Regions from separate parts of the Homo sapiens genome. Here all the other regions are linked to region 1. Evidence: fine-mapped QTL for protein levels in blood plasma. A gene starts in region 1. Each other region holds a variant in brackets. All regions are shown on one strand. Distances are from middle to middle.

The links. PIP is the chance, under the fine-mapping model, that this variant and not a neighbour inherited with it causes the effect. The UK Biobank Pharma Proteomics Project read protein levels with antibody pairs (Olink). The fine-mapping took linkage between variants from a reference panel, not from the people measured, so its PIPs are less certain.
Region 2: its variant is fine-mapped to the plasma level of the NELL1 protein (UK Biobank, PIP 0.97).
Region 3: its variant is fine-mapped to the plasma level of the NELL1 protein (UK Biobank, PIP above 0.99). The variant lies in the coding sequence of NELL1. If it changes the protein, the assay may bind it differently, which can mimic a change of level.
Region 4: its variant is fine-mapped to the plasma level of the NELL1 protein (UK Biobank, PIP above 0.99). The variant lies in the coding sequence of NELL1. If it changes the protein, the assay may bind it differently, which can mimic a change of level.

The regions. Positions count from the first base shown.
Region 1 is chr11:20,665,384-20,673,493 of GRCh38, forward strand. It overlaps NELL1 (neural EGFL like 1), which reads left to right and starts at 4,203. Exons shown (of 20, transcript NM_006157.5): 1 at 4,203-4,395. The coding sequence starts at 4,341.
Region 2 is chr11:20,930,028-20,938,137 of GRCh38, forward strand. NELL1 (neural EGFL like 1) reads left to right here. Exons shown (of 20, transcript NM_006157.5): 10 at 7,759-7,832. Among named protein-coding and RNA genes, the nearest start is that of NELL1, 260 kb to the left of the region's middle. The variant G/A (reference allele first, on the strand shown) is at 3,697.
Region 3 is chr11:20,881,940-20,890,049 of GRCh38, forward strand. It overlaps NELL1 (neural EGFL like 1), which reads left to right. Exons shown (of 20, transcript NM_006157.5): 5 at 3,505-3,601. All of the region lies in intron 2 of LOC105376585 (a long non-coding RNA gene), which reads right to left. Among named protein-coding and RNA genes, the nearest start is that of NELL1, 220 kb to the left of the region's middle. The variant G/A (reference allele first, on the strand shown) is at 3,576.
Region 4 is chr11:20,843,358-20,851,467 of GRCh38, forward strand. It overlaps NELL1 (neural EGFL like 1), which reads left to right. Exons shown (of 20, transcript NM_006157.5): 4 at 4,226-4,396. Among named protein-coding and RNA genes, the nearest start is that of NELL1, 180 kb to the left of the region's middle. The variant G/A (reference allele first, on the strand shown) is at 4,347.

The sequences.
Region 1 (8,110 bases):
ATGTTTGGATTTTACTAAAATATGATGGAAAACTCCAGGAGGAGTTTTGAGCAAGGGAGTGTGATATGATACATGTTACAAAACACAGACTATGACTGCTGAAGGTGGAGGTGACTGAATTATACGGGGCAAGAATGGAGGCAGAGAGAAGCATTGAGAGTCTATAGCTGTAGGCTATGGGAGAGATAATGATGGGTTGGAGGAAGGTGGGAGGAGACCTGGTGAGAAGAGAAATTTGACTGGGGATTTTTCTTTAAGGTATACTGACAGGGCTTGATGCCTTGTGTGTGGGGGCTAAGGGCAAGCAAGTCAAGGATGACCCTGGGTTATGTAGCTGGAGCACTTGGTGAAGGCTCATGCCATGTCCGTAGAAGTCAGCAGTGGAAATTTAAGACAAGGGAAAAGTCAAAAGTCCTTAGTTGGCCATATTACAATTTTTTGTCATGATCATTAAAGTATTTTAAAAAACAGCTTGAGATATAATTCACATACCATACAATCCACCCATTTAAAGTATACAATTCAATGGTTTTTACTATATTGTGAATATATGTGAGAGTTTTACATCCATCACCACAATCAAATTTAGAGCCTTTTCATTACCTCAAAAATAGCCCCTACACTTTTGAGCCATTACCCCCTAATCCTACCTCCCTGGCCCCAAGCCCTAGACAACCACTAATCAGATGTTTTGTCTCTATATATTTGCCTCCTGACTTTTCATAGAAATGAAATTGTATAATATATGGTCCCTTGTGACAGGCTTTTTTTCACTTAGTGTGAGGTTTTCAAGGTCAATGTTGTAGTATGTGTCAATGCTTCATGTCTTTTTATTGCTGAATAATATTCCATTATATAGGCATACCACATTTTATTTATCCACTTATTTGTCAATGGACATTTAGGTTGTTCCTACTTTTTGGCTATTTTGAATAATGCTCTAAACATTTATGTACAAGTTAGTATATGGACATATGTTTTCATTTACCTTGTGTGGATATTAGGGATAGAGTTGCTGTACAGCAACTCTATGTTTAACTGTTTAAAGAACACTTTACATTCTAACTAGCAGTATATGAGTTCCAATTTCTCCACATCCTCACCAACATTTATTATCTATTTTATTCTAGCCGTCCTAGTGGATGTGAAGTGATATCTCACTGTAGTTTTGACTTGCATTTCCCAGATGGCTAATGATGTCGAACATCTTCTCATGTCTTTATTGGCCGCTTGTATATATACTTTGGAGTAATATCTATTCAGATCTTTTGCCTATTTGCAAATTGGACCTTTTATTGTCTTGTATTATCTAGTTGTAATAGTTTTTTAGTAGATACAAGTTCCAATCAGATATGTCTTGCAAAGATACTTTTCCATCGGTTGTTTTTTTTACTTCATTGATGGTGTACTTTGAAGTGCAAATGTTTTTAATTTTGATGATGTGGCCATATTATATTCAAGATGTCTAATAGGTAGTTAGAGATGTAGGCCTGGGGTTCAAAATAGAGGCTGGGGATAGAGATGCATATTTGAGAGTCATCCCTGCACAGATATTTAAATCCATGAGGTGGGATGAGCTTAATAGGGAGGGAGTGTGGCGGGAAGGGAAGGGTTGAGGAGTGAGTCCTGGGGCTCTCCAACATTTAGAGGTCAGGAAGAAGAGGCAGAGGGATAATCAAAGACAACTACTGGCTCCTGAAGAACCCATGGAGGTAGGCCATCCTGAAGGGGAGGGTGGACTTGGGATCTGGCATCAGGTAAGATGTTTCAGTGTGGCTTCCACCGAACACAGGTCTCACTGTAACATTCCACCACCAAGTACATACATAGCCATGTGTCCCTTCATTGTCACTAGAGAAACTTGCTGGGCCCATTCTATGAAGGTCACCTTAGCTTAACAGACCTACACACTCAAAATCCCCACTCAAGGGTTGCACTTATAGGAGGAGATTGCAGTACTTAGTTATCTAGAAAAGATTTATGACCTTGTTGAGATTAACTCTTGTTACTGTTAATGGATGTTATGCTGCAAAGCTATGACAGAACATATGTCTTGCTTTATTTTTTAATGGAACAAGCTAAAAGTCCCATCCCACAGGACCAGCTAATTACACAGAGACTTTAAAGATAGAGAGCTCTGAAGATCTTACCCAGACCACCTTTTCCCCTTGCTGGGGTCACTGTACTTTTAAGGATTCTGGGCTTTCTGAAATCAATAAAAGGGCCTTGGAAACAACAGTCCAAAGCAACTCAAGGCTGTTCCTGCTGAGGTGTACTTAAAGACTGCAGAGGAGAGACAGGAAATGGCTCTTATAATACAACATGGTGTATGGTGTCCTTGTCCACAAGGCCCAACAAGACTTGGGAAATCCTATTCTCTTCAAGATGTGTGATTTTAATGTTAGCTTTAAATGCAACACGCTCCGGGTGGAAGGAAAAACACGTGGACTCTGTTAGTGAAAATACAGAGTCAAGGCAGACAGATTTCCTTTGGGTCTTAGCCGAATCTGAGTTGGAGTCAGCTGACATCAGTTTACCTCTTAATCATTCAGCTCAACTTCTGGATTGTGCAGTAGACTTCTTGAGCTGGAATTTACCTGCTTGTTCACTTTCTTTTTCATCTGCCAAAGGACCACAACATAAAGGGCCAAATGGGACAGTGGCTTGCACACAGAAATATCCAGAAAAATAGGGCAGAGACCAGAACAGCATGCTAGTAAAGCCTTCTCTCTTAATAAGCTGCGCTGATTTGGTGAACTTCACTGGGGCTCCTGGGGTCAAAGTTGTGTAGGGGTTAAGGATATAGGAAGTGAAAGTGGGTGCAAGTGAGAAGGGCACGTTCTTATTAGTGAAGAGGATTCTGAAACGTTGGAATTGGTTTCCAGGAAACGAGGGACGGCTGTTCTGAGGTTTCCTTGGACTCCTCTGGGATCCCTGTTGTGAATATCAAAGGAGTACTGCTGGTGAGGGGGAGCGGGGGCTTCAGAGAGAGTGGGAAGACTGAGCAAGCTAAGTGGAGTTCATTTGGTATAAATCAGAGGCTGTCATTTCAGATTTCATGACTCTACATATCCAGTTATAAATAACGTTCCTAGGTGTTAGTAGGACAAATAGGAAGTGGGACAGAAGTCTTAAATTTGGGGGATCTTCATAGGGAAGGTCAGGTCCTGAAAGGGTCGCATAGAGGGGAGAGGACCCATTCTCTTCTTGCCGGCAAGTAGAAAACAAAGCCCAGCCCAGCTTTTCTCTCCAGAGAATGTTGTGGTGGGAGAGGGAAAAGAAGGTGGAGGTCCCGGAGGAATTGCACATGGGGCCAAAATGTGACTATGAAAGAAGAGTGGGCTTTTGATAATACCATTAAGAAAATCACGCAAGAAAGAAAAAAAGATGGTTAGGAATTACCCCTATGTGGCAGCATCTGCCCTGCAGAATGAGAAGGTTTGCAAATAGACTTCCCAAACCCCAACCACAGCTCGCTCCGCCTCGAGGACCCCTTTTCTGCACCCCCACCTCAGCGCCCTCTTCCTGCACCCACAAAGAGAGTACTCAGTCATAGGGGTTCAACAGGAGAGAGGAGACAGAAGGTACAGGCGGTGAGCAGGGACTCAGCCATCATCCCCCTCAGGTCCCTCCCCACCCAGTTGACAGAGCGAATCCCGAGTAATTGTTTTCCGAGGGGGTCCGTGCGCGCTCGGTGGCGCCGCCTCGGTCTGGGTTCCCCCGAGGAAAAATACCCACCCGCGAGGGCTCGGCGGCTTTTCGACTCGGCGGGGATGAACTGTGGCAACTTCGGCAGCCCCCACCGCGGTGCGGAAGTAAAGAGGGCAACATTGGCGACTGCGGCTCGGAGGGGCTGGAGCGCGTGAAGCCGTGGGGGCGCCGTGCGCCTCCCGCTCTCTCGTTTCGGCCGCAGGTCCTGGGACTCCGACTTCGGTGCTCCGGGTGATAGCGGCTGCGGCGCCTGCAGTCCAGATCCTCGCAGTTCTGCGGGCGAAGGAGGCGAACGGAATCGGCCCCCAGTGGGGAGCGCAACAAGCCACAGTAGCCAAACCCCGCGCTCCTGCCCGGGCTCCCAGACGAACGCAGCCGCAGCGGGGGGCCGGGCCCCGAGCCCCACGCCGCCGCCGCCGCGCCAGCGGTGGGGGGCGGGCTGGGGGCGGGGCGGCCGGGGCTGCCTTCCCGGGCGCATATGCGAGCGCAGCACCCGGCGCTGCCGAGCCACCTCCCCCGCCGCCCGCTAGCAAGTTTGGCGGCTCCAAGCCAGGCGCGCCTCAGGATCCAGGCTCATTTGCTTCCACCTAGCTTCGGTGCCCCCTGCTAGGCGGGGACCCTCGAGAGCGATGCCGATGGATTTGATTTTAGTTGTGTGGTTCTGTGTGTGCACTGCCAGGACAGGTAAGCATGACTGTGGCGGTTAGAGGGATCCGGGAAATGGGGGTGCCCACAGACCACGGCGGCGTGGGGAGACCTGGAGCCGAGCTTTGCGCTGGTCTGGGGAACGGCGGTAGCGTGGACCGGTTCCTGGGATCTCTTTGCCCTGCTCGGAGTGACAGGGTGAAAATAGGGACTCACGGGCTTGAAGATGTCCCCGTTGAGTGCCCCTTCTCAGGGGACCCGGCCTCAGGGGCGCAGGAGTGAGGGGCGCGGCCGAGTAGGCGCACCCTCTTGCTGCTAGTAACCGGCTTTCCGTCCCAGGGAGTCGAAACCCGCAGCAGGGCGGGCCCGCGTGCCCCGAGTTCCCGAACTTGTAAGGTGCTGTGGAAACCACTCTCGCCGACCCCCGCCAGGCTGGGAAGGGGTAGCTGCGGGAGTCGCACCCGCAGAGGGAGCGCTTCCGGCTGGCGGGCGCGGCCGGGGCCCGGGAGGGCGCGGTGCGGCGAGGGCAGAGAGCTGCGGGAGAACCCTGGGATCCCGCGATCTCCTCCTGTGCCTTCCTGACTACCCAGGAGAACTCCAGGAGTATTCTCCTCCGCCTGTCTTTGCTCCCAAGGGCTGGGCGAACAATTATCTGAGGGAAATAGAGCAGTGGAGACAATCTGGGGAAATTTTCTCAAGCTCAAACCAGTTTTCTCTTGCCATAATCGCAGGGTTCCGTGTGGGGAGGGGGGAGCAAGGATGACGCTTGATTGTCTGAAGTCCCCACTTCGTTCTGCCTCCGGAGACGCAGTTGTGAGGACTCTCAGCGCATCTTCTTCCTTCTGCTTCCACCGGCTCCCTTGCCCAAAAGTCCCCTGGGGTTCGGAGACTGGCTTGCAGCCGCCTTCTTCAAAGAGCTAGTAGTAGATGCGGGGAGACTGGGGTGAGGTGAGGTGGGGTGAGATGTAGGAAATTGGCAAAAATAGGGCCTGTCAACTGGGGGGAGTGTCGGAGGTTTGCAATCCTACCCAGCCATCCTCCGTACGCGCTGCACCCCAGAATCTGTGTGGTCATTCCCTTTCCCTTTATTCTCCCCCCTTTACCATCCTTATTTCCTTCTTTAGAGGCGTGGCCTTCTCTCTAGGCCAAAGAGCAAGTTCATCTGGAGAGGGCTAAGAAGGGGCGTCTGCACTTGGTTGGCTCAAAAGTTCCCTCCGCTTGCGCCCAGGCGCCCCTCTTTGGCAGTTAGCCCGCTGGAAGATCTAGCGTCTAGGAGCTTTCAGAGGGCCCTTCCCACTTCCCCAGGACTGAGCAGGCAGCGGCTTTCGTCTGGTTAAGAATGTTGAATATGGATTTCTCAAGGGACAAAAGAAACCTCCCATTCCGTTCCTTACCTCTATCCGAGCTTCCCAGGCTGCGGAGACGCCAAGGCTCAGTCTAGCTTAGAATAGTTGCTTCTTGAGTTCAGGCCCATCCGGATGGGTTAGTCTTTTAAAACCAGGACACGCTGAAGGAGTGCGCGCACCCCAGGAAGATCAGGACAGGCAAGACTAGTGCAGAGCGTGGGCTACTGGCTCTGAGCGCGAGAGTCTGGTGCTCGTGGACATCTTACAGAGGAACCGCAGACAGGAAGAAGCTAGGTAGGGAGGGGGCAACCCGTTAGTGAGTTCACATCCCTAAGTGCACATCACTACGGAATATGCCTAAATCCTTTGTTCTCATTACTCCTTTGAAAAGTCGCCAAAGTACCCTTATCACGGAATGGAACGTGTTTCAGGGTTCATTGCTTGTGGAAGGGGTCTTTAAGAACAGGTATTTTCCCTCTTTCCACTTCCAATCCCCTTTAAATCTTGTAAAAATTTCGTTGTAGGGGAAGATTCATTCATGTCTTTACTCATTCAACAAACGATGTCTTGCTGGGTGCCAGGATTTCTTATGCAAAGAGGAAATGACAGTCCTTGACTTCTAGGAACTTAAAGCTCAGCTGGGAATCTAGATAGAAACTGGCAGGCATTTTAATTTTACAGATTGATGGGGGGGGTGGTGGAGAGGTAGGAGTATAAGTTTGTATTAAGGAAATGTGGAGGAGAGACAGTTTGAATTAATTCTAGGGAGGAGTGGTGGTCAGGGATTTGAGAGATGTACCTTCAAGGCTTTCTAGGGAGTTTTCCAGGTGGACAAAGTGGGAAGGCATTCTTGGCAGAGGGAGCAGATTCAGCAAAGGCAGGGAAGCATGGAAGGATCTGACCCACTGGTTGTGGCTGTTGCCTAGGGAGCTTGGGTTCTCAATGTCACTTGGCACTATTTGAACACTAGAGGCCGCATATTTCTTCTACACACATTATCGGAAGAATCAGAGAGACGGGGGAATTACCTCTCAATTTGTACACTTAAAGTATCTTGTAGCTTGAGAGGGTATAAGCGGTAGCTTTCTGGAGGCAGCCCTCTGATTCTGTGCAGAAATCATTTCCACATCATCCATCCACCCTCTTCTTAGGTAACAAAGGCTGGCTTGTGATTATCAGCATCCAAACAGCTGCGTTGAAAGTTTCTTTGTCAAGTGGGACAATTGTTGTCTGGGCTGTTAACAGTCCTAGATGAAATAAACATGTGGTTCACTTAGTGAGCTGCTCAGATATCACCGGCTTTTAATGGAACTGAGTAGATGATATCAGGCACATTTTAATTAAAGCAAGACTGCAGTGCAGACACAGTTGCATATGAAAAGATCTAATGATAGGTGTCATGAGGAGCTGCTTAAATCTGCCTTGTTCAGAGAACTTGTTTTAGAGTGCAAAGTGGAGTCAAGACGGGAGGTGCCATTCTCCAGTTCTTGTTATTTCTGGTTGAGAAATAATTCAGAGATTTTCAGGTACATCACTAATAATGAAAATTTAGAAGGCTACAATAATAGCAGTAATAACACACTATCTCTATGAGTTTTCACCAATGCTTTGGCAGTGTGAATAATTGAAAACTCAATAATTATTCCCACATTGCTTTCCAGTTTGTTTTGGTCACCAGGGCAGAGGGTGAAGGGAGTACCTACACCTGCAAAGCCCCTACTGACCAAGTGAATGTCTTTTGCTGCCACCTGCTGGAAAGGAGAGAATTTTTTTTTTTTTTTTTGAGATGGAGTTTTGCTCTTGTTGCCCAGGCTGGAGTGCAGCGACATGATCTCGGCTCACCACAACCTCTGCCTCCTGGGTTTAAGTGATTCTCCTGCCTCAGCCCCCCCCCCCCCCCCCGAGTAGCTGGGATTACAGGCATGCACCACCACGCCTAGCTAATTTTGTATTTTTAGTAGAGATGGAGTTTCTTCATATTGGTCAGGCTGGTCTCGAACTCCTGACCTCAGGTGATCTGCCCGCCTCGGCTTCCCAAAGTGCTGAGATTACAGGTGTGAGCCACTGCGCCTGGCCAAGAGATTTTCTTTTGGAAGGAACTCTCAGGTGGATCATTAATTATGAATTGAATAATGGAACTGTGAACATGAGCCCCCAGCCTCCAAGGATCATGGAAAATACTGGCCAGCTTGGAACAGGCATAGAGCATATTCTTCAAGAAAATTGCTTTTGGGGTATTAAGGACCTTCGTAGGTGCCCAGGGGCCCAAACCTGATTAAGTGGTTGTGAAATTCTGTGGTTAAATGAGCTCTTGGAGCATTTTTTTAGTCTGCATGGTCCAGAGGAAAACAGCTTCCACCATGGACAATGAGCAGGAGTAAATTTAAAGTCAGCCAGACCCAGGAGGA
Region 2 (8,110 bases), 260 kb after region 1:
GTTTTAGTCTATTATTTAGAGTTCCTGCATAGATCTCTGAATGCCATCTCTTGAAAGTTGTTGTTTGGACATGGAAGTAATGAGTCCTTCGGCAGGTTTGTGTCTTAACTTTTTGACGTTTTTTTAAAATTATAAAAGCACTGTGCTTTTGGCTTAACATTTTGAAAACACAGAGAATCATAAAGATCAAGATGGAAAGTTCACCCATAATAGCTCCACTTAGAAACACTCTTGAAATTTTAGTGGATGTGTCCTTTTTTTAAGAAAAATTACATTTTGTGTGCAGTTGAGGTTGTATTGTGTGGGCAATTTTTTATTCTAGTCTGTTAACTTGCCATTGTCACTTAAATATATTATTATGTTTTAAAAACTTCTGCATAAATGTCATTTTCATGAGCTTCATTGTTTCCCATTGTTTGGCTGTTGCATAACTTTTTTTTAACCAGTCCCAAGTCATTGATATCTAGATTGTTTCCCACTTTTCACTATTATAAAGCACGCTTAAATAACATGTTTTGTATAGAAAACACATTTTTGTATATTTTTGTATTTTATATTTCCTGAAAATAGAATTCTTCAGGCCAGAATTACTGGGCCAAAGATGAACATTTTCAAGGCCCTGGATACATACAGTTAAATTGCCCTCTCACTAGACGTGTGTGGGACGGTCATTTTTCTTTGTGCTAATTTGTTTGATAGTTTTAGGTTTTTAAAATTATTTCAGAAAATAACTCAATTTTATTAAAATGTTGATACACACACTAACTAAAACATCAGTTTTTTTTTTTTTTTTCCCTTTGCATGGAATTCATAGCAATTTAGTTAGGTAGCACTAATTTTCTCACAGCTCTGATTGGTAGTTTGATGTGTTCAGAGTTTAATAAAGTGGGAATACAAATAAATTATTAAAACACTATTCTAGACAAACTTAAAAAGAAATGATACAAGGCACCTCTGGTAATTAAAAGGTTGAGAACTTCTGGGCTGGAGGGCTTTCATTTCTCACTAGTTTTTAATAGAAATATGCATTAGGTGATTACTGAGTACTGATGCCTGGAATAATGATGAGGGATCCTTCCCTGCTTTAGAGGAGCTCACTTTCAAGGTAGAGACGTGGTTTACAGTGTCTGGAACTGTAAGTGCACTAACATTAGGCATGTGTTGGAGTACAGAAGAATGGCCTGGGAGGGAGGGGGAGAATACCGGGGGAAGGCCTGGGATGCTTCCCGGAGGACATGGAGCCAAGTTAAATATTTTGAACCTTCTAGAAGTTGACTTTTGTGGGTTAAGCAGTGGGGTGGAGAAGAAGAGAATGAGGATTGCTAGAGCAGAGTTCTAACACTAATCAGTGGAATTTCTAGATGTTTCCAATGTCTTCACATCAGAAACATGGTAGAGTATATTTACTTTGGTTGTCCCTTTTAAATATAAGTATGTGAGGTAATGCATATGTTAGTTAGTTCTTAGCCATACCACAGTGCCTACGTATTTCAAAATATCATGCTGTAGACCGTAAATATGCATACCTTTTGTCAGTTAAAAAATAATAATAAAATATAAAAAAAGACAAAGAAAAAATTGTATCTTGTATGAATAACTTATAGTCAAATCTTGTTTTTTAATCCAGTCTGACAGTCTGGATTGTATTGTTTGGATTGGATCATTTAATCCATTCACATTTAATGTTGTGAGGGATATAAGTGAAACTACTGTTTCCTGAATACCATGTTTTTCCTTGGTTTGGTTCCTTATTTTGATTTTTTTTCATTTTTTTTGTGGAGCTGCCTGAAGTAAATTTCTTATATGTGAATTTAAAGAAAAATTCCCAAGCTTCTCTCTGACTTTAGGTGGGGTAGTATTCTAGGGACACCAGGTAAAGGTAGGGCTATGACAAAGGCAAAATGAGCCAATATGTAAAAGCAGATTGTGTTGTCTGCTCACTCACTGAGTGTTCACGGACTTCTCTTGGCCTTGGGAACTGCAGCACTTACAGATGAGGGCGTCTGTTTGGAAATAGGGAAGAAATTTATCTAAGCATCCATGGCGGTACCGAAAATAGTGAGGGAGTTTCATTCCTCAAACACTTGTTGGGTGTCTGCACTATTCAAGGCATATTTAATATACCTATTTGCACATTAAAATCCTTTGGTGAACTTCTTAAACTTGGAGGTTTCCAGGGCTCCACCTAGACCTACATAATCACAATCTCCAGGCATCAACATCCTGAAATCTGTATTATTTTGGTAGACAGATTTGAGATCTACCAGAGATAGGAAGGAGGGAGGAAGATGGAGAAAAAAATATTTCTTCTATGCAAAACAGTATGTGTGAAGGAATAAGAGTGAAAGAGGGAAAGGGGAATAGTGTGTTTGATGATAACACAGGATTTATGTAGGTGAGAGGTTGAAATAGAGCTGCAAACGTGAGTTGCGGATGGATGATGAAGATTGTATCCCAATGAAGCCATTCAGTAATCCCTACCGAGGTCCTTCTGCCAAACACTTTGTCAGTTCTGGGGGCAACAGTGGACACGTATGGATCATTTACTCTGACAGGCACTGTGTTTAACCATTTTATATGTATTCATTTAATTCTTCCAACAACTTTAAGTGGTAGGGTCCGCTATTATCCCCATTTTACACATGAGGAGGTGAAACAGAGAGGAGAAGTAACTTGTCCAAGGTCTCCCAGTTTTGGGGGAGCCAAAATAAAGCCCTGGCAGTCTGGCTTCAGAACCCAGTGGGATGCTCTTGACCTGTTGGCTCTAACCATTGTTCTCCAGAGAGATCTCTGTTACAATAAAGAATATTATTTCACATGAACACTATGGAAGACACAGAAGTCACACAGAGAAGGGAGTGATTAACTCCATCTGAAATGTACATATGTATGTGTGTGTTAGGAAAACGTCATAGGTAACAGCTGAGCGGGGTATTGACAAATGAAGAGGAGTTTTCCAAGTGTACAAAGTAGGTAAGAACATAACTGCCAGAGGGAATTGCATACACAAAATCATGGAAATAAACCAGTGTTGGTTTTGGTACTGCAATCAAGGTTTTAATGCAGAGTTGTGGCATAATCAAAGATGTGCTTTTAGAAAGGCTACTGCATCAAGAGAGCTGGAGGTGGTGGGGGATATGGGACTTGGGCATATTCCAGGTGGAGGTGTTGAGGCTGGCAGGCAGGCACAGCCTGGGAAGATGCAAAGGAAGGGAAGGATGTGGGTGACAGCCAAAGGAGCTGGCACATTAGAGATACTCCACAGGTATTGTTTTGCATGAGACAAATGGATCAGGGACAGAGCGTCTGTAAGGGAGAAATTGCCAGGTTTTGAACAAGAGCCTGTGGGAGACTCACGGTGTGATTAACAGAAATAAGACAGGTGGAGAAAGCAGTATGGGGAGCAATACATTCCGTTTGACATGTTTGAGTTAGAGATGCCTGAGGTACAACTAGTTTGATGTGGGTGTCTTGCTCATAGAGGTGGTATCTGAAGCCAAGGCTGTGAATTAGCTCACTGAGGGAGGAAGGATCTTTGGGTGTTCAGTCTCTCTGATCTGCCACTCTCCTTTAAAGTGTAAAACAGTGTGCTGATTTTGACATTCTAGGCCGCTGAGTACCAAGGGATGGCTGGAGTGTGTGCAGGGTACAAATACCTAAATAAAGATAGGGAAACCTTGTATCCACATCTGACAG[G/A]GATGTCAAGCTGTACTTGTCAATTGTTTATTCAGTGTGCACCCAAATGGCAAAATTGTCCAATCATTGCACCAGAAAAATCAAGGTCAAAATTGAAGGGCCAGGTGTCTGTCGGTGCAAAAAGATACAGCTGCATAACTCTTTATATCCTCAGTACATTTTGTTTCTGACATAATGGAGAAGTGTGTGTTGGTGCTAGGTTTCAATTTTGTGTTTGGGCACTGTGAAATATTCTAGTTTGCATGTCACCAGTGTGATATGAAGAGCTTTAGGTATCCATTTACATTTCTAATCACCCTGAAAGATGTTCGAATGGAGTCCCAAATGCCCCAGCCAAACGCACCAGAGCCTGACTCACCTTATGCTTGAATTTCCTCAGACATAAAAAATAAGCCTTTTGGCTATAGATCAAGAGGTTGGATAATAAGGGCTGATATTAGGCATAGGAATGCAGTGGCAGGGAAGGAGGGCTGTTGTCAGAGAAGTGAGGATGAGTATGAGAAAGCAGGAGAAATTCTTGTGACCTCCAGTGGTGATCCTGAAAGTCATCCTAAGATAATTTCATAGATACATACATTCTGCACTAGTGCCAAATTGCAGATGGTTGAGGCGTGCAGTAATATGTTGATCTCATTCACCAGCACCAAAGCACCCTGCTATGTGAGTACATAAAGTTCAGTGGACATTTAATTTTTATAAGAGACTGGTGGATTCGAGGGGTGGATGTGTCTCCATGTGTGGTGTGAATGTAAACAATGAGGCATTTTTATCTCCAGATTAGGAGTTTTGGGATGAGCCTGTCAAAGGGGAAGAGAGGATTTGGACAAGTGCCTTAAGGCAGGTGATCAAATGTGTTAATACCATTGTGGGAGTGGCAAGGGGCAAAGGAAGAAAAAATGTCTATTTCTTCGCTTCACAGCTTGGGCCAAGAAGCAGATGGCAGATTTGACAACAGTGCACTTAGCAGAACTGTCACTTTGGAACAAGCTGCCTTGCCAAGTTGGCAGCAGGCACATTTGGGAGTGTGGGAATTTATTAGACAGGAATTCCAGACCTTGGAGGTGTGGTCTCTCCATGCAAGTACACTGGGAAATCTAGCTCTCATTAGGACCAACGAGTCATGGTCAACTGATTTATCTACAAAATTGAGGCATAAAAGATGATCAGGGATAGATTTTTGTTTACTGAAGGGAGGAAAGGACCTATCCAGACAATTATATTAATTCTCCATTTTTTTGGTCTCTACTTCTAATGTTTGAAGTTGTATTGAATGCCAGAAATAACTCTTATCTGTGGATCAAGAAATTTGACTGTTTTTTGCCACCTACTAGAGGCTCATTAATTGGAAAATTATTATTACTCTCAATAAATCCTAAGGCATGGGGCTTTGGGCTGGAGATAAAATTATAGACATTTTCCCTACCCTCATGGGGGTTGCAATTAGCAGCAGGGACATGGTGGGGTGTACAATTAAATGGGAAATTAGGATGTCATGTGATATATATTCTGTTGGGATTAGGTTCAAAGTACAATAGAATAAAAAAGTGAGGACGATTAACCAGTGTTAAAGGGTAAGAACAAGTTCTGAGGGAAGTCAGCCCTAAGCGGAAGCTCATGGGTGTATAGGGTGGGAGGCTGCCAGTGGAAGGTGGATGGGGTGCTCTGCACGTGTTTCTGAGAAAGAGAACGGTATATGTAAGGCCCGGAAGTGAGAGATAAAGCATGGCTAGAACATATGTGGAGGTGTGGATGTTTTGTAGGGTGAATGAAATCACGGGAAATGGTGGGCTGTGAACCTTGGGAGATAAGAAGCCTCATGAATGGCCTTGTTTGCTGAACTAAGGATTTTGGACTTTATTCTGAGAGCTTTAGGGACCCTGATTTCAAGCAGGGCCTCATGTTTGCACTTAAAAAATATGTGTCTGACTGTTTTATGGGGAAGGACTGGTGAAGATTGAGACTAGAACATGAGAGAGCTAGGAAGTTGTGGTGGTACTGAAGAAGAGGGATGACGACAGCCTGAACAAAGACAGTGTCTGGGGGCAGAGGGTGAGGAATGGAGAGGAGGAGGTTGACTTGAGAAACTTAAGAAGGGGACATTGATAGGATTTGGACACTGATTGGACATGGAGTTGTGTAAGAGGGAGAGGTTAGAAGGTTGCCAGGCACTAGGGTGTGGGAGCTGGGATGGATACCCATGCCATTGCCATTCACTGAGAGGAGAATACAGGAGTGGAACATATTTGGGTGGGGAGTGAGGTTGCTGCAGGTCAGGTTCTGAGGGGAAACAGACTTTGACATAGAGATTTACATGTACTTTATTAGGAAGTGCTCTCAGGATCAATTCTGGGATAGGAATGAGGTGGTGAAGGAAGAAGAATTGGGCAGAAGGAGAAGTTAAGCTGCAGTGGTTACAGCAAATGCCGAACTCATTCCTACAGGGAGCTTTGGAGCTGGAATGGCCCTTCGGAGTTGTCCTCAGTTGGAGAAAGGGGGCCAGGACTGTGTACCATGTTCACCCATCAAGAGAACTTCACCTTGGGCAAGGTGGCTCTCTACAGCCCTATACAAGTCTTAGATCTCCATTCAGGGGAGAGCCGTTAGTTGCCAACTGTCACAGCAGTTGTAAGAATGTATCCTTTGCTCATGGAAGTGGATCTCCATGTACCACAGCATCCACTACAGGGTATGACGTTAACTTAGGCATGTCCCTGGACTTTCTTCTTCCTGTGGCTAAAATGGACTAGATGACTACTGTTTGTTTTATTGGAAGGGAGGAATGAAAGCCCCATTTCTCACCTGGTCATCCTCTTTGCCTTTCAGATCTTGCCCCTCAACATCGAAGGGGGTCTAGGTTCTTTATCTGCAAACACAGCACTTGCCTCACTTAGTAATTATACATTCACTGATGTTATTATGTAATTACTGTCTATTTCCCTGATTGTAAGCTCCATGAGAAGAAAGCTTTGGTTCTTGCAACACTATATTACCAGTTAGCATGTTGCCTGCCCTTTAGTAACACTAGAATATTATTTGAATGAAGAATAACTGAGCATCCCGTGAGAATCAGAGGGTTTTATAACTAGTAAACCACCAGATTTAATCAGCCCATTTTTAGCAGATACAGATATAGAGGCTCTGAAAGGTGAGGTGGTTCTATAAGACCAACACCGAATTAGTGGGTGAGATCTCTTAGAGTGCGTATTATTGCTTCTGTTCCTCCTAGAGCTGGGGCTAGAAGGGTCCTCATCAGGGCAGGAGAGGGAGTGACCAGATACTTGCTTCTTTTTTTCCTGTTGAAGTGGATGGAGAATTTGGTGGTGTTATATTAGGATCATATCAAATTGACATATGCTGTACTTGCTTAAAAGTGAGTCAGCCAGTTAAGTCAAGAAATGAGTTTCAGTGCAATCTAAATTGAGTGGTAGGAGCTCCGTTTATGTTTCTCTTTGAAATTTTCTACAAGTTCACCCCCGCTGCCCTTCCTGGCAGCCTTTTGAACTCACCTTTCCAAAGGCATTCTCTCTAGTGCATTGATCTAGCACTTTACAGGCTTTCCTTGTATTTCTCACTTGTCTCACATGTGTATTTCTCACGCCCACTCCCATGATCACAAGGAAGAAGAAATGGTGTCCTTCTCCATTGTGGCTGAGGTTCTGAGGAATGGAATATATGTGAGTCCCCTTTCACCCAGTTCATTTTAGCTGGAGTGTCTGAATCAAAGCTACTGCTAACTGTACTCCACAGCGATTGCCACCAGTTCTTTCTTGTTTTAGCTTCTTACTACATCAGTTCATTCTCTAGTTCCTTTGGCAACTGTAACATTGAAATAATTGTATATCCTGGCTGTAAAGGCCAGGCAAACACAATCATGATGAGGTCTGCCTGGGAGATTTAAGGGTTATCCTCCACACAATTCCTTTCACTTTAGACAAAGAGATTTGTATTGCTCAGAAGCAGAGAATCTAGGTTTCTGTGGAATCTATTGGAGTTAGAAGGTACCTCTGAGGTCATTTTGTGGCACAGCAGGACTGTCTGACCCATTTTTATGTTTTATTACAGCAAAATGTATCTATGGAGGAAAAGTTCTTGCAGAAGGCCAGCGGATTTTAACCAAGAGCTGTCGGGAATGCCGAGTAAGTGTTAATTTTATGGTCCCTATCACTTCTGGAAAATGAATAGATAGATGTGTGGGCTTTAGATGAGGTTCTTGAGTGGGGCATATTGGCCTGGATAGGGCCCCGAGGGGTGGAACTCTCTGCGGTGGGTTGGATTACATGATGGCGAGGATCCAGCCAGGCCATTTATGTGGTTAGCTTGTGGTCAGCTGTGGATCAGGTAGCCTTGGAAGAAGCTATTAAGGCAAGGATGTGAGAGGAGAAAGAACTAACAGCTGTTATTAGTTAGGGAGGCT
Region 3 (8,110 bases), 220 kb after region 1:
GTACCCTATATATCAGAAAGCTCAGTTTCCTTACCACACTGGAGAGCAAGGAGTTCACTATATTAGCTGTGACTTTCATTTTAGTTGACTTGGGTGACGCCAGATTTAAGTGACAGATCACTGTGCCCTACCTGCCTTTTTACATGATCCAGTCCACCCAAACTGTCCCTCAGGGACCAGCAGCCTTTGTGCTAAGATTCTGATTTTACTTTGGCTGGCATGTATAGCTCCCCTTCTATAGGGGTACGTGTAGGAATGTGATAATTCAATTTCTTAGTTTGTGTTATCAGCATTAGTCTGTGCCGTGCACATTTCTTGTTTCATTCATTCACTTTTTTCTTGCCTCACCATTCCCACCAGGCCTGTGATAGGAAAATTCTGTGCGTATCCTTAGCTAATCGATAACATTGTTTTGCATGTGTGAATTTTTAGTTTACATACATTATGGACCTTGTTGGTTTTTTCTCTATTTTTTAAACTGTTAATGTTAATATAACTTTAAGCTCACAGAAAACTTATAGGAGTGATACAAGGAACAATCATATTTGCCCAGATTCTGCATTATTTGGAAGGAAGAGAAAGCGTGTATTCATAGATGTGTATACTTATATATACAAACAGTATTGTTATTTTGAACCCTTTGAGAGTTAAGTTGTAAACATCATGACCCTCTACCCCTAAATACTTCAGTGCCTATTTCCTAAGAACAAGACTTTCACTTAAGTATATACTGCCCAGTTAGCAAAATCAGGAAATTGAGTATCAATAAAATACTATTACATAATTTACAGATCTTATTCAAATTTTCCCAATTTTCCCAATAATGTCCTTTATGGGATTATTTCCCCCTGCCCTAGCATCTAATCCAGGATCCCATCTTGCGTATAGCTTTTATGTCTTTTTAAAGTCTCTCTTTTAATCTCCAACTGTTGTTCAGCCTTTCTTTATTTTTCATGACATTGACATTTTAAAGACCACAAGCAGTTATTTTGTGGACTGTCTTTCAATTGAGGTTTATCTGATGTTTCTTCATGATTAGATTTCCTCCTCCCTCCTCAGCAAGTTTTCTTTTTAAAAAAAATACTGTTTTTAAACTCTCTTCATGTTGATACATCTGTATCCAGTTTGTTGATTCCACCTGCTGCACAGAATTCCCTAATGCAGACTGCCTCTTGGAACAGATTTGGCAGGGCTGCCAGGAAGGCAGCATCCGGCAGAGCTTCCTTGGCATCAGGATGGTGTCTTTGTGGGGGCTGTATGACATGGGAAATGAGAACACCACTTTGACACATGTGCCCTGGGTCACCCTGCTTTAGCTGGTGATAGTGGGCCTCAGATGTTTGCTTCTTCAACTATTTCTAAGGCACACGGAGCTATTATGCTTTGCAAGATAAGGTAGGATAGGAAGTTAATCTCTTTGATTGTTTTTTCCTTCATTAATTCATGCATTTAATAAATATTGATTAAGGGCCTACTCTGCTCATTGGAGCTTATCTTCTAGCCTATTGAATACATAAAATAAACTTTTGAATCGAAAGCTCGTCTAACTGTGACAGAGGCAAAGTTGTTAAAATTGAGCTTAAGGTAAATGGTTCAACATTTTCAATTTATTAGTAAAATAGCCTTATAGAAATCATGCTTCTGCCTCGTCACCCAAATACAGTGATTTCCATTTCTCCCTGGCCTCTTTTGGTATTTACCAACATTGAACATCATTTGTGCCTCATTATCTCTATAGGGCATAAATAATTTTGCATTCCCTTTTTTCCAGTGAAAAATATTTTGTATATACTTTCCCTTGTTTCATAACTTGCATATTCATCACACTTAATGACTGTAGTAAATTCTTTCAAGCTGATCTATAACTTATGCATATCTCTTAAGTTGTAAATTTGCCTTGTGTCTAGTTTTTCCACTAATGTTAGGAGAAAAAATTTTAAAGGAAGTGTGTATCATGCTCCTGTGTTAAGGCAGTTTTGACAAATAGTTTCGTCTAAAATCGTTCATTCTAAGATACAAAAAAGGTTAGATTCCTGTAAAGAAAACACATTCTGTCTTCTTTTTAGGAAAACTTATTTTTTCCTGATTATGTTTTGAGTGTCCACTTATAATGGAAGGATAATTAGTAGAGAAAGACCTGATGTGCTTGGAGCTTTGCCAGCTGAAAACCTTGCATGTATTAGGAAACAGCAGGTTTCCAGTGGGGAATAGTAGAGTAATGGACTGTGCAGCTAAGATATAAGACTGCAGCGCGACAGCTCCCAACTGCAGCAGGCTCACCATCACTCACTTTCCTTGACACAAGTGGACAGTCTTTCAGTTCTTCTGCACTTTCCTTGTGAGAACCACCGGAGGAATACATCGCCCTCTGGCAGGAGGCAGTCAGCTCCATCACAGCAGGGAGGAGTGATGAGCTGTCCGTACCTCTGGACACACCTAGGAATGATTCCGCAGCCGTTGCTCAGTCCTCAGCGAGGACTCAGGAAAGCAAGAAATGGACATAGTTCTCGTTTACAGATCACTGTGTTTCATCCCACCCAGAATCTTCTGAGCATCCAATGCTGAGAGGTACTTGCCCGGGGTGAGGTTGGAAGCTCGTGATCAGTGGGTGGTTGCAGGGACTATTTCTAAAGAGGGCACGAATAAAAAGATTTGGGACCAACTAACCGGACCTTGGTAGGATGGAATAACTGAGACATTAATTGTTCGGTAGGCTCTGCTAGAAACTTCAAAGATCCTAGGTAGGGCTCTGACATCTTCTGTATTAGTTATGTGCCTGTATGGATCAGATGAGGATTTTCTTCATATATAGAATTTTTATCTTACTTTTCCTCCATGAGAGTGGGACCTTGTGTGTCTGGTTTCTTGCTCTATTTTCTGTTGCTTAGTGTGGAGCTTAGAGCATAAAAAGTGTTCAATAAATATTTGTTGGTTGGACGATGACTTAAGCTGTGTAGTTCTGTAGACTAAAAACATGATCATCTAGGCAGCTGCAATCTACTTGTTTAAAGGGTTCTCTCAGGTTACTGCAGAAATGAGTAGGACCTAAAGAAACCGAAGTCGGAGAATAGCAGGGTGCAAAGGAAAGTACAGTGGCTTTAGAGCCAGGCAGATAAGAGTTCTTATCCCAACTCTACTACTCACTGCTGTCTTCACTTGGTTAACTCATTTATGATTCCTAAATCTGAGCTTTCGCACCTATAACATGCGTATCAAACCACTTTCCCCACAGAGTTTGTGGGCAGTTCATTGCTCAGAGTGGACACTCAAAAATGTCACCTTCTTCCTCCCTCCCCTGCCAAAAGGGAGACAAAAGCAGGAGGGGCCCAGATGATGTGTCCAAGTGTTAGATCTCTACATTCATGTTATCTGTCATGTAAAGTGTGCCACATATTGGCTTCTCTTCATACAGCAGCTAATGGCATGCATACTTCAAACAGCATATGCACCTTTTGGTTCTGCTTTGAGCCTCTCTATTAGTAACTGTGTTCTTTGCCTTTACAGGATTTATGAGCGTGTGATAGACCCTCCAGATACCAACCTTCCCCCAGGAATCAATTTATGGCTTGGCCAGC[G/A]CAACCAAAAGCATGGCTTATTCAAAGTAAGCACTAACGTTCTTTTTATTGAAGTATATATATAGGCGATGCTCAGTTTTCTGTGTTATTTATTGGAGCCGTGTTTATAATTACATTAGTGGGAAGGGCATGGCATAATAGCTACTAATGTTTATTGAACACTTACTTTGTGACACATGCTTTTTTATGTGCTTGACATGAATAAACTGGTTTACTTGTCACAGTAATTTGTGAAGTAGGTGCTTTGAAACCAGGCAGAGAGTTAAGTGACTTGCCCAAGGTTATCCAGTTCACTCTGCTGCCAGGGATGGATGATCCAGAAGGCAAATGATCCTCAAAATGTTGACCTCCCAATTCTGAAGGATTTACGATAATCTTCAAACTGGTTTCCCTTCTCAGATTATATGTTAATTCAGTTTAGAGTAGATGTCTAGATATGAAAAATACATCTCTGCTTCCTTGAGCTTTGGTTTAATTGCATTACTGGGAACAGAAAACCAAATACTGCATATTCTCACTTATAAGTGGGAGCTAAACACTGAATACACATGGACACAAAGATGGGAGCAGTAGACACTGTGGACTACTAGAGGTGGGAGGGAGAGAGGGAGCCATGGGCTGAAAAACTATTTGGTACCATGCTCACTACCTGAGTGACTGGACCATCCATAGCCTAAACCTCAACATCATGCAGTATACCCATGTAACAAACCTGCGTGTGTACCCCCTACATCCAAAATTTTTTTTAAAAAAACTGCATTATTATACTTCACAGAAACATAAGGATACAGTGATAAAATAAATTTAAAAACTTAAAAATACCATGAAATTTTAAGACAGTCTTGTTCTTTGAAAGAATGACACACTTTTGCTTCTGGCAATATGGCAGACTAGATATTCTAAAAATCCTTCTGCTTCAAAATGACTATAATGCTCGATAAAATACCACAAAAATATTTTAAAATTCAGCATTGTACTTATACGAAAGGAATTCCTTGGGGACCAAATATATGGAGGGGAGAGAAAGCCAGAGGGGTATCAGTACCAGAACTTAGAGCCTTAGGTTCCTTCTTTTTTATTTTTAAAAAATTAAGGTGTAATTCCGCATGTTCTCACTCACAGGTGGGAGTTGAACAATGAGAACACATGGACACAGGGTGGGGAACATCATACACTGGGGCTGGGAGAGAGATAGCATTAGGAGAAATAACTAATGTAAATGACGGGTTGATGGGTGCAGCAAACCAACATGGCACATGTATACCAAGGTAACAAACCTGCACGTTGTGCACATGTACCCTAGAACTTAAAGTATAATAAAATAATACCAAAAAAAAGTAAGATGTAATTTACATACAGGAAAATTCATTCCATTTAATGTACAGTGTCACAAGTTTTGGAAAATCTACACTGTATTATAATCATCATTGTAATTGAGATAAAGAACCATTTCTTTATCTCCAAAAATTTCCATCCCCCTTTGTATTAAACCCTTCTCCTCACCCGAAGCCTTTAGCAACCACTGGTCTGTTTTCTGACCCTGTAGTTTTGTCTTTACCAGAATGTTATATAAATGGAATCATTTATGTGTGTGTGTGTATTTACATAAGTTTCTATGTTGAGATTCACCAAGTTGTTGTGTGTATCAGTGGTTCATTGTTTTCTATTGCTGAGTAGTATTCCAGTTCTGTTGTATGAATGTATCATATTTTGTTTGTCCATTCTTCAGTTGATGGACATCTGGGTTATTTCCAGTTTGGAACAATTATGAATAGAACCACTATAAACATTTGCATACAGGTTTTTGTGTGAACAGCGGTTTTGATTTCACTTAGGTAAGTGTGTAGGTGTGGGCTTACTGGGTTGTATATTAAGTGTATGTTTAAATTCACAGGCAACTGCTAAACCATTTTTCAAAGCAGCTGTGCCAGTTTTTGCATTCCCACCAGCAATCTATGAAAATTTCAGTTAGAGCTTTAAATTTCAACCGTCTGTGTGGGATGGGAGAAATTACTTAGATCCCATGCGTGACTGAGTGTTGGAATGGAAATTTTTAAGGTAAAGCCAGTCCACTATCTAGCAGAAGGAGGCAATCCAGAAACTATCCTGTCTGCATCTCATCTCCAGATGAGAAAAAATAATACTTCCCAGAGAACTAGTAAACCACAGCACTTGAAGGGTTGCAGACTTGACACCCAGATTTACTTTACCCATGAAGCTCAATAAAGTATATTAAAGTGGCCCTGGATTAGGTACCTTGGGAGTCCTGATGAAGAAAATACAAATTATCTTTGGAGAAAGTCACTTTTGATGTAGACCTCAAAGGATGCCCACAGATTAAGTCCATAAAATAGGAGCTCTAAAGCCATCACGAATGACAGTGGAAAGAAACAAAAAAATGCTCAGTTAGTCCTCACAGGGCTACAGAAAATGAAATTAGCAGGTAAAGAATTTTTTTTTAATTTTTTAAAAAACTTCTGTTTAAAATGTTTGAAGAATCAAAATAATAAAGAATGTATGATGACTAGAGATAATAAATAGGCCCAGAGATAGTTGAACTAAAAAGCACTTCCAAAAATGAAAGATACAGTTGTTGAAGTTAAAAAAGAAACAAAAACCAAAAACCTCAGTGAACCTGCTAAACAGATTAGACACAGGTAGGAAGAGCATTTGTGAAATGGAAAATATTGTTAAAATAATTAAACTAATAGTAGTGCTTCAGAGATAAAGAGAAGAAAATAGGAAGGAGGTTAAAATATAGAACAGATACATGTATATAAAAAAAGTTTACGTATCTGTTTAATATGTGTGAATATGTATGCATATCTATATAAAATGGCTGTTCTGATGCCTCTATGTTTTCTAAGTGGCTTCTTAGATAGCTGAGATAGATAGCTTCTTAGATATGTATATTATTATAATATACATATATTTAAAAATTAAGGAAGATAATAAAGAATATATTATGTCTATATATGCATATATATTTGAAAATTCCAGATAGTAAACAGAGATAAAGGTTATGGGCACTATTATAAGTATAACGGGTAAGAATTTTCTAAACTTAATAAAAGACATTAATTCTCATTACTGAAAGAACAATGAAATAAAAGTATATGTTGTTGATTTCACATAGAAATCATAGAAAACATAGAGGCATCAGAACAGCCATTTTATTTAGCTCAAAAACCAATTTTTTTCTGCTTTGACCTGGCTAAGCTGATACTTGTTAGGCTGTCTCCCATGTCTGTGGTTAATTGGCATGCTAGCAGGTGGCAGGATGATCTGAGAGCCTCTTCACCTCTCTGGGGGTTGGCTGGCTGTTGACTCTTGTTCCTCAGTTGTCCTCACATGGTCTCTCATCTCCAATGGCCTAGCTCAGCTTATTTACATGTCATCCCTGGGATTCCAAGTATCGGAAGAGTGCAATCCCTAAAGTACTAATATTTTCAAGGCTTTGTTTGCTTGATCACATTTGCTAATGTTTTATTGCCCAAAGCAAGTCATATGGCCAACTCCAGAGTCAAAATGTAAATAAATAGACTTCATCTCTTGAAGGGCTGCTCCATGATATCACATTGCAAGGATATGGATGCAAGGAGGGAAGAATTTTTTTTGGCCACATCAGCAACCTATTATACAAATCAAGATAAATAGACAGCCACACTTAGATATACTGGCAGAATAGCAGAACTCCAAAGACACAGAGAAGATCTTAAAAATAGCCAGTGACAAAACACAAATTTTTCACAAAAGGATAACAAACTGAACAGCTGGTTTTTAAACAGTAAAAGCAGAAGTCAAAAGACAGTAGAAAAAGTGTTTTCCAAGTTTTGAGAGAAAATAACTTTCAAATGTAGTAGTATATACCAAGCTTAATTGTCATTTGAGAATGAGTGTGACATAAAGACATTAGTAGAGAAATGAAACTCTCAGTTTATAACCAATAGATCTTCATTTAAAAAACTTCCTGGAAGGAAGACATACAGTGCAAGAAGAATTGGAGAGCAAATGCATGTTGACAGTATGCACAAATCTCAGTGATTATTATTCTGAATGATTGCCATTATCCTTGTTTGATTAAAATATAATAATGCTTAATTTTAGAAAAATAATATTAAAAATATTGACAATGGAATCCTTCACCATCAACCAAAATATCCGGGTTCTGTCATCAAAATTGACTAGAAGGCTGGCGTGACTCATGGAGAGAAGGAGGAACAGTGCGGTGCGACGGCCCATCTGAGAGCCACACGGGAAAGGGGAGCCCCCTCCCTGCAGCCAAGGGAGGCAGATTTCCAGTAACTCCAGCCGGAGACTCAGGGACAGAATTCGGATTTCCCTGGGCCTGAGCCCCTAGCGGGAGAGGTGGCCACAGTCTGTGTGGACCAGCAGACTTAGCCTCTTGTCTTGGTAATTCTGAAGAATCCGGGCAGTCTAGACGAGTAGGTTTCCCCCCAGCAAAGCACACCCGCTCCACCAATGGCCAAAATGCCTCATTAAACAGGTCCTGCTCCCTGTGCCACCCAACTGAG
Region 4 (8,110 bases), 180 kb after region 1:
TTTCTCTGAATAGCTAGTATATATCCTTGTAGAATAACTGGAAAAGAGACCTTTTCTAAGAAATGTTTTACCTTTACTTGTGATTTAGTGCTGGATGCTATCTAAAATTAACTTTTACTGTTTTCACTCTTGTACACAGAAGCCACCTAATTCATCCAGCAATAATCACTTTAACATTTTGAATATATCTAGCCCTTCTGTTCTATATATAAAATATAATATATTTTATATATTATATAAATATAAAATTTTATATAAATATATGAATATAAAATTTTATTATAAATATATAAATATAAAATTATATTATATATTTTAATATTATGTATGTAATCTCAAAATAGGATACTTTGGTATCAATTTTGGGGAAAATGATAAAAATTTTAATAAAAATAACTTGATTGATCTTTATCTACCTATATTTTTAGAATTATTGTTCCTGAATTTATTTCCAGATCTACTAAGGAATTCAGATAGTCTCATGAAAATCGACTTCAGTTCATGATAATACTGATTGTACCTGATACCCAAGGGTGGACCTTTGAGGAATTATGCATGTTGATTCTGGGTAGGGTCTACCTTGCACTTAAGCAAAGGCCTGGGCTTACAGAATTCAGCTAAGTAAATACAGGTTGGAAAAGATTTGCCTTCATAACATTTTGTGTTCAAGGTCTTGGGGTGTTAGTTGATGGGAAAGTCAGTGTAGGCGTAGTTGTGCACAGCTCAGAGCAAAGCAGGTGATAGTGTCACTGTACTTTGCATTAGACCACATCTGTACAAGTGCCTTTATTCCTGGATGCTGTATTTAAGTGGAAAATTGATTCATTTGACCATGCCTAGCGCATGGTGACCAACATGGGGAAGGCTGCAAAGAGGAAGAAGGCAGAATCCTTGTCCAGGAGGGGCTCATAGTTTAGATGGAGATGGGAGTATAAAGGAAGGAGCCAGGGAAGCTTGGCTTGAAACAGAAGAGGGAATATCACTGCTGTTTTCCGATATTTGCAGGATGAGCAGACTTTTCTGGGAGCGAAGGCAGTTTGTTGGAACAACACACTTGGCTGAGGTCCAAGGCTAAGGGCTTGCAAAATCTTTTGCTTACAAAATCTGGCTTATAATTTTATCATTTATACAGCTGCCCTCCCCAGAGACTCTTGAAAAGACCCCAATACACCTGAGTCCTGAAGAATGAGGACTGGTGAGGGGTAGATTGCTCACTAGATCAGCCTACTGTCACTTCCAGTGTCCTCCTTCTACCTGGCAGCGCCACGTGGCTCCTATTCACTTGCTCGTAGCGTCAGACTTCTGCTCCCTTCATCAAGACCAGCTGGCCAGGAAGTAAGGCAACACCTGGCATACTACTATAGTGCTTCTTAAACACAGATGTAAACATAGAACATGAATCATCTGGGAGTTTTGTTGGAATACAGATTCTGCTGCAGTAGACCTTGGGGTTATCCCAATAATCTGAATTTCCACAGGTGATGCTGCTATTGGTGTTCTACAGACCACCCTGAGTCACAAGGTTCTACTAGAAAACATGAGTCTTCCCTCCAGGCTACAGCCAAATCCCATCAGGCCAAATGACTTTCTGCTCAGAGTTGCCTCACATCTTTATTTGTAGAGCATTACTGCCTGGAAATATTGCCTTATTTTCCTCCTAGCCCTCATGAAAGAATTTTATCCAGATGTCACTTAGCCATCCAGTGTTTTTATTATTGCTAAGGCTGCTTCAGCAGTTATCTGACATGTGTTTTCAAAAATATATCATCTTGATTTTCATCCAAGTTGCATGAGATGCAGCACTTTTTGAATATGTGCAGGATGTGGCCAGAAACTTTAGTCTAAGATAAAAGTATCATTTGCCTGACATTAGGACAGACTTCTTTTCTCCTAGCTATATATTTGTGATTACCCCAATGTAATCACTGACTCCAGTGCTTTATAAAGTGATCTTTAAGAGATCTGTTTATAATACATTGAACACTTGCTCAATGAGGCCACAACCCCAAGAATAATGATGAAATCTGGTTAAATGTATTTGCCTCCCTCTTTAATGATTCCAGCAGGTGACTTCTGTGAGTATTTCTAATTGTCATTGATTGAAGCCCTTTCAAGGTCATGTCCCTTCCCCAAGTAATTGCTTATTGGTCAAAGTAAAGTAATTGAGAGATTTCTCATGATGTGTGAATCCTGGTAGGATCTCAAATATAAGCTCGTGGTGCATTTCTATACAGGTGCTAAATGGTCTTGGGCAAGATACTTAATATCTTTGATCATCTATAAAATAGGGATAATGAAATCTACCTTAAAGAAATTAAAAAGATGATGTCTATGAAAGCACTTGCCATATTCCTGGCACATGACAATCATTCATTAAATGACTTTTCTTGCCTCCTCATTTGTTCCTTTTAGGCCATTTTTCACCCTTTTTTTGGGGGGGCCGTGGGGAGGGACATATTTTACTTCCTTCTTCACTAGTTCACAAAGCACCTTCAGACATGGGATATATATTTTAAACCCCTTTTTAGTTTTTCATTATGTGTTCAGTAAAGACATATTGAATGAATTAATGAATGGCCAATAGTCTGTAACATCTTCTTGACCTCTAAGTTCTCCGATTGTTTGATTCTTCAGTGTTCTAACAACTTAGAAGAAACTGGAGAATTCCCTTAAAATAAATGTCTTCTTTGTTAAAGCATTTCCTTTTGTGCAGTCTTATAAAGTATGTATTACATAAATTATTACTAATAAGTATGAACCTGGGCCTAGAAGCTGGCTGCTATGGTATAAATAACCTCTTTTAGTTTATGACCTTGGGCATGATTCTTTGTACTGGTGCAAATGAGGTGGGTCAGAGGCTGGTCTTGACTCTCTGCTTGCCCTTCACTGTTTACTTTGGAAAGATCTGTGAAAGATGAGCAAGAAATATGTATTTGTTCTTTGGCATGACTTTTGGGATTCAGGCACAATAGACGCTGAGTTTCCTGATATATTCATTTCATTCCTCATAGAAGATGCATTTTGTCTTTTAGATTAAATACCCTTTGGCTTGTGGGGTTAGCCAGCTCAGTGGATTAGAATAGAAGCAGCAGGCCCTTCCAAATCTAGGGGTTAAGCCTAGTTACCTGTCTAGGCTAATCGCTCTGGAGTTGACCATATGAATGAGTTGTTGGAGTTAGTGCCTGGTGAGGCTATCCTCACCACTTTGTCATCATGCCTCTGGGATGGGCAACAAACTGGCAGAAAGTGCATACACTGTCAAATTTAGATCTAAGTTTAAGTCTGGTTTGGGTATGTTTAATCCTTAATCTCAGTTTTTAAGTTTTTTAAAAAAGATAATACCAGTCTCAGGTTTTTTGAGTGATAAATTAGTATATGTGAAATACCTAGTGCAAGCCCTGGCAGTGAGATCAGGCCCAACGTTGATGACAATGACACATTTCAGAAGAGAGGCATAGGAAACAAAATAGTTTTGGCACCTGTGAAAGTACTAGCCCTGTTGTGTGCCTGAGGAGTGTCCCAAAGTTGCTTGTAGCATTTTATGACTGAAGTGCAGACCACAGTGGTAAGGCTAAGAATTTCTTATGGGTTTGAAAAACAGGATCATAATCCTGGAAAAGAAAAAACTTAATTGCATATTTCATTCTCTGATAATTTGAAATACTAATTCCTATGTGACTAGCTTCAACCTTTTCTCCCCTACTCATTATCTAGGAATTGTTATTCAATTATATCTTTTTGTCTACAGAGAAGAAAAAAGACTAATCTTTTCATTCTGACAATGTATTTCAATCCCTGATGTCCAACATGACTTCCATTTCCCTTTAATTCTTGAAAAGGTAAAGATAATAGTTCTGAAAATAACCATCAATAGATCCATTCCACATGAATGGCCTGTTTTAGACATTCATGGAATGAGGGTTCTGATTTGTACTTTGAAGTATTTAAGAAACACTGCACTGAGTTTTGCTAATTAGCTGTGGCTTGTTACCTCATGGTGGACCAATTGATCTCTGTTTCAGAGGCTCAAGATGTTGCCACGAGGGTTCTCAGACAATAGATTCATTGGGTGTCCTACAGTGAATTGACTTGAGGTCTTGGCTCTTTGTGCCATGTTTAGCTAATTTTAGATTGTGAGAGACCTGGTAGTAAGGGGTTGAGGGATTGATGATGGCTGTGATATCCAGAACTAAAATAAAACAAATGTTTGTTCCTTTACATACAGCTATTTTGAACTGGAGAGCAGTGGCCTGAGGGATGAGATTCGGTATCACTACATACACAATGGGAAGCCAAGGACAGAGGCACTTCCTTACCGCATGGCAGATGGACAATGGCACAAGGTT[G/A]CACTGTCAGTTAGCGCCTCTCATCTCCTGCTCCATGTCGACTGTAACAGGTATTTCTTTGTCTTTGAGTGTTGCTGATTCTGCCCTTGAAATCAAGCAATGGAAAAGGGGAAAAAATATCAAATTCCTTCAAGACTTGCCAGGAAACAAACACCAAGGGACCCTAATTGTAATTTAACCTACCAAATGGGACCTTAGGCATGCTGAAATGACCAACTGTAATATGATAAGAAAACAGTTCATTAAGATGAAACTGTATCCCGTGATTAGGAGCAAATGTACAAAAGGTTGATTGCAGATTGGGAAATAGTAAGTGCACCTCAGTGTGCTCCAGGCACTGGCTGGAATTCCATGGAGCTGTGATCACAGTTAACGGTGATGTATTGTTGTTGAGTTCGTTCCACTGGGAAGCGAATAAGCTTGTCTACCCTGGAATGAATCTGAGAAGCCTGTGCCACTGAAGCAGCTAATTCTATTTCACTTCATCAAGCTCACCTTTGCTTAAATATCTTTTCCAAATGGAGGCTTCTTAAAGAGGCTGTTCTCTGAGCCTTTTGGAATTGATGCCAGGTATTTTCTCCAGAGGAATGAGCCTTCCAGCTTGTCAGGGGATGGTGGGACCAGGGGGTTTCACAGGAGGTTTTGGGTTGGGGTGGGATGGAAATGTTGTCTCCCTTGTCTGTCACTGGAGCCAGGTTTAATGAAAATTGAAGAATGAGGGAGTCCATTGGTTTCTATTGGATCATTTATGGCTGGACAGCTGGATAATGGTGTTCAAGGGGAAAGTTTTTATCTCTCCATAACCCACTGAAGATCCTTATGGATAGTGACCCGAGTCCAATTACAGAGTTTTTTTTTGCATTCTGAGCAGTGCCCATGCATTGTTGATTCTCATTAATGATGCCATCAAAGTTAAAATGACTTTTCAGCCACACAAGGCTTGCTCCCTTGAACCCAGGATAAAGAACAGGCATATTGGGGATAGCCTCCCTTCCAAAAACCATCAAGAGGAGAGATATTCCAAGGTCAGTCAGCTTCAGACCGCATTTCTCATGAGGAGATGCTTGAATATGCCTGCCACTCTAGCTCTGCAGTCTCTTTTAGAAGAGTTGGAAGGGCAGGGAACTGTTGTCAGGCTCAAGGGAAGGTTTGCCATCTTGAGGTGAGTCTTGGTCCATTTTGATATGACCTATTTAAGGTGCTTTTTAGACTTCTGAAGAATTGTGGTTTCCACCAGATATAATAAATATGTCTGGACAGAGTTTCCATAGAAACCACTAGCTCCTTTGTACACTGCAGACTGGGGCTGGGCAGCCTGGATAAAGCCAATGCTTAGCTGCTATATCCATTTTCACTTTCAAGAGCTCATTGCCCCCTTCAATTCTCTAGAATTAAAGTGGCCTGTCCGGCAACACTCCTATGACCCACTGTGACCTACCACCCACATGCTGTCTAAATGGGATTGCAGAGGAAGAGCCCTGCTTGTCCTTCTAAGCCACAGGACAGAAAGAGGCCACAAAACCCTAGTTTCGTAATTTCCAACTTAAGAGTCCTGGAGATACTGCTGTTTTCTTGCTATGCAGTTTTTTGTTTCTTCCTTCTAAGAGTTTTACTCTGTTTCCTGACATTCTTCTCTCTGGAGCAGTTCTTAGGTGGTGCTTGGCCTTCAGTGCTCAGTCTACATTTGTGGTGGTTGTTGTTATTTACTCTGCATATCAATGGCAGCTCTTTGACCCTGCCTTCAAACTTTCATACTCTGTATGTCCTTCATGGAAACCATGACCTCTCTACCAGGAGAGTGAGAAGAGGATAGGAGATCTGTAGTTCACAGTATTCTTTAGAGTCATTGCCATTTATAAAGAATTGACTGAGGGTATTCCAAATATTCCTTCTGTTTTCTTAATATTTTTCATACTTTGGCTTGTGGCATAACATGTCCTTTATGTAAGATCTTGGAGGGAAAACTTATGAAGTTGCTGCTAGTTAATGATTCGTAGACTCTAAACACAAATACATTTTTCAGGTAGGTCAGGAGAAAAAATGGACCCAAAGACTGGTCATAAGAAAAGTAAATTTTGATTTTCATGTAGGAAAAGGCTAGAAACATGGTTCCAAAATCTGACTATACCTAAGAATTACCTGGGGAACATATTAAAAAAATGGATAACCAGGCTTTGCCTCTGACCTACTGGATTAGATTCCCCGAGGGCGGAACCTGAGAAGCAATATTTTTAACAAGCCCTCCATATAGGTTCCATGCGGGCAGTCTACCCTTGGTGAATGGACTGGCATTTCCAAACCACTGGTTTAGAAAGAGGGGAAGGAATTTGGTGGAGAGGCTGGGCTACAACAAATAAATGAAGTCGTGGAAGACCAGTTACCTGAAGGAGGGTAAGAAGGAGAAAAGGATTAAGGAGAGGGTAGTGTCTAATGCACGAAACAAACTTTACCTTCTTCACAAGTTTCTTCCCAGCCAGAACTTGCCAACTTTACAGTAGCAGAAGCTCTGTCCCATATATCAAGATGCTGGTTCTATCACTTTTAGTCTCAGCCACCCTCACAGAGAGTGAATTTCAGCTATCCATTACTACTTTGTGATTCTTATTTTTTGATCCCTGTTACTCTTAGAGTTTTTCTCAACCTCTCACCCAGTAGTGTTCTGCTGATTAGAGTATGAAAGGAGATGATGTTAGATAACATTTGATGTTGATTGTGCTAGGCACAGTGCTGAGTACTTTACATAGATTAACTTATTCCATACTCATTCTATTAGTTTTTCCTCTTTTTAAGATGAGGAAACTGAGGTTATATATTTGTCTGTAACCCTGCTACTAATAAATGGCAGCACCAGGATTTGGACCCAAGTTTGACCTATGAGTGTCTGCATCTAGCTACTACTAAGCTATTTAGCCCAATAGTGGGGACCATTGACACTTTATTTGGTACATGAGGGAAGGCCAAGATTCAATGTGAGCAGTTTGTTCCTTTCTAATATTTCCCTGCCACATGTCTTATATTGCTAATCCTGGGAGCTGCTTGGAAAGATGTGAAATCTAATTGATGGAACCCTTTACTTTGGTGCTGGAGAAGGGATATACATTTATTGAGCCTCTACTATAGGCCAGGTAATGTTCTAGTAATAGTATTCCTTAGGATAACCATATGGGGACAGTTTTACTAGATGCATTTTGCATATTTGGAAATAGAAAAGCTCAAGATAAATAACTAGGTGTCAATCACATAATATAATAAGCATATAACCCAAACTTTGAGTCTGAAACTATCTCCAAAACCTTAGTCTAACCCACCCTCCAGGTCACCTCCATAGTGTGCTAATGACATGTACTGCCAAAGACAAGGTCACAACCACACCAGGGAGTCTTCCCAAGGGAGAGATACTACAGAAGGTTCAGGGACCATGAGAACTCTAAAATCGAGAAGAAATTTCCCAGATAATTCCATTGCTCTGAGGAATATTAATGTGGCAGGATTTCGCACATTATTTTTTTAGGTCAGAATTGAGGAACAGCTTTTTCAGACCTAATTGTACAAATTGTCACAAGAAAAGCAAACGCTATTTTAGTTGGTAGTTCAACACTTTCTGCTTGCTACGGAGACACTTTTCTCCTTGTTTCAGCTGTTTAGCTGGGCTTAGTTAGAAGTTCCTGATGTGTGGATAGCAGATTACCTCAAGCTAGAAACATAGAAGGAACCATTCAGTTGGGTGGGGAGACTGATTATCTCCATTGCCTTGGGTTTTTCTC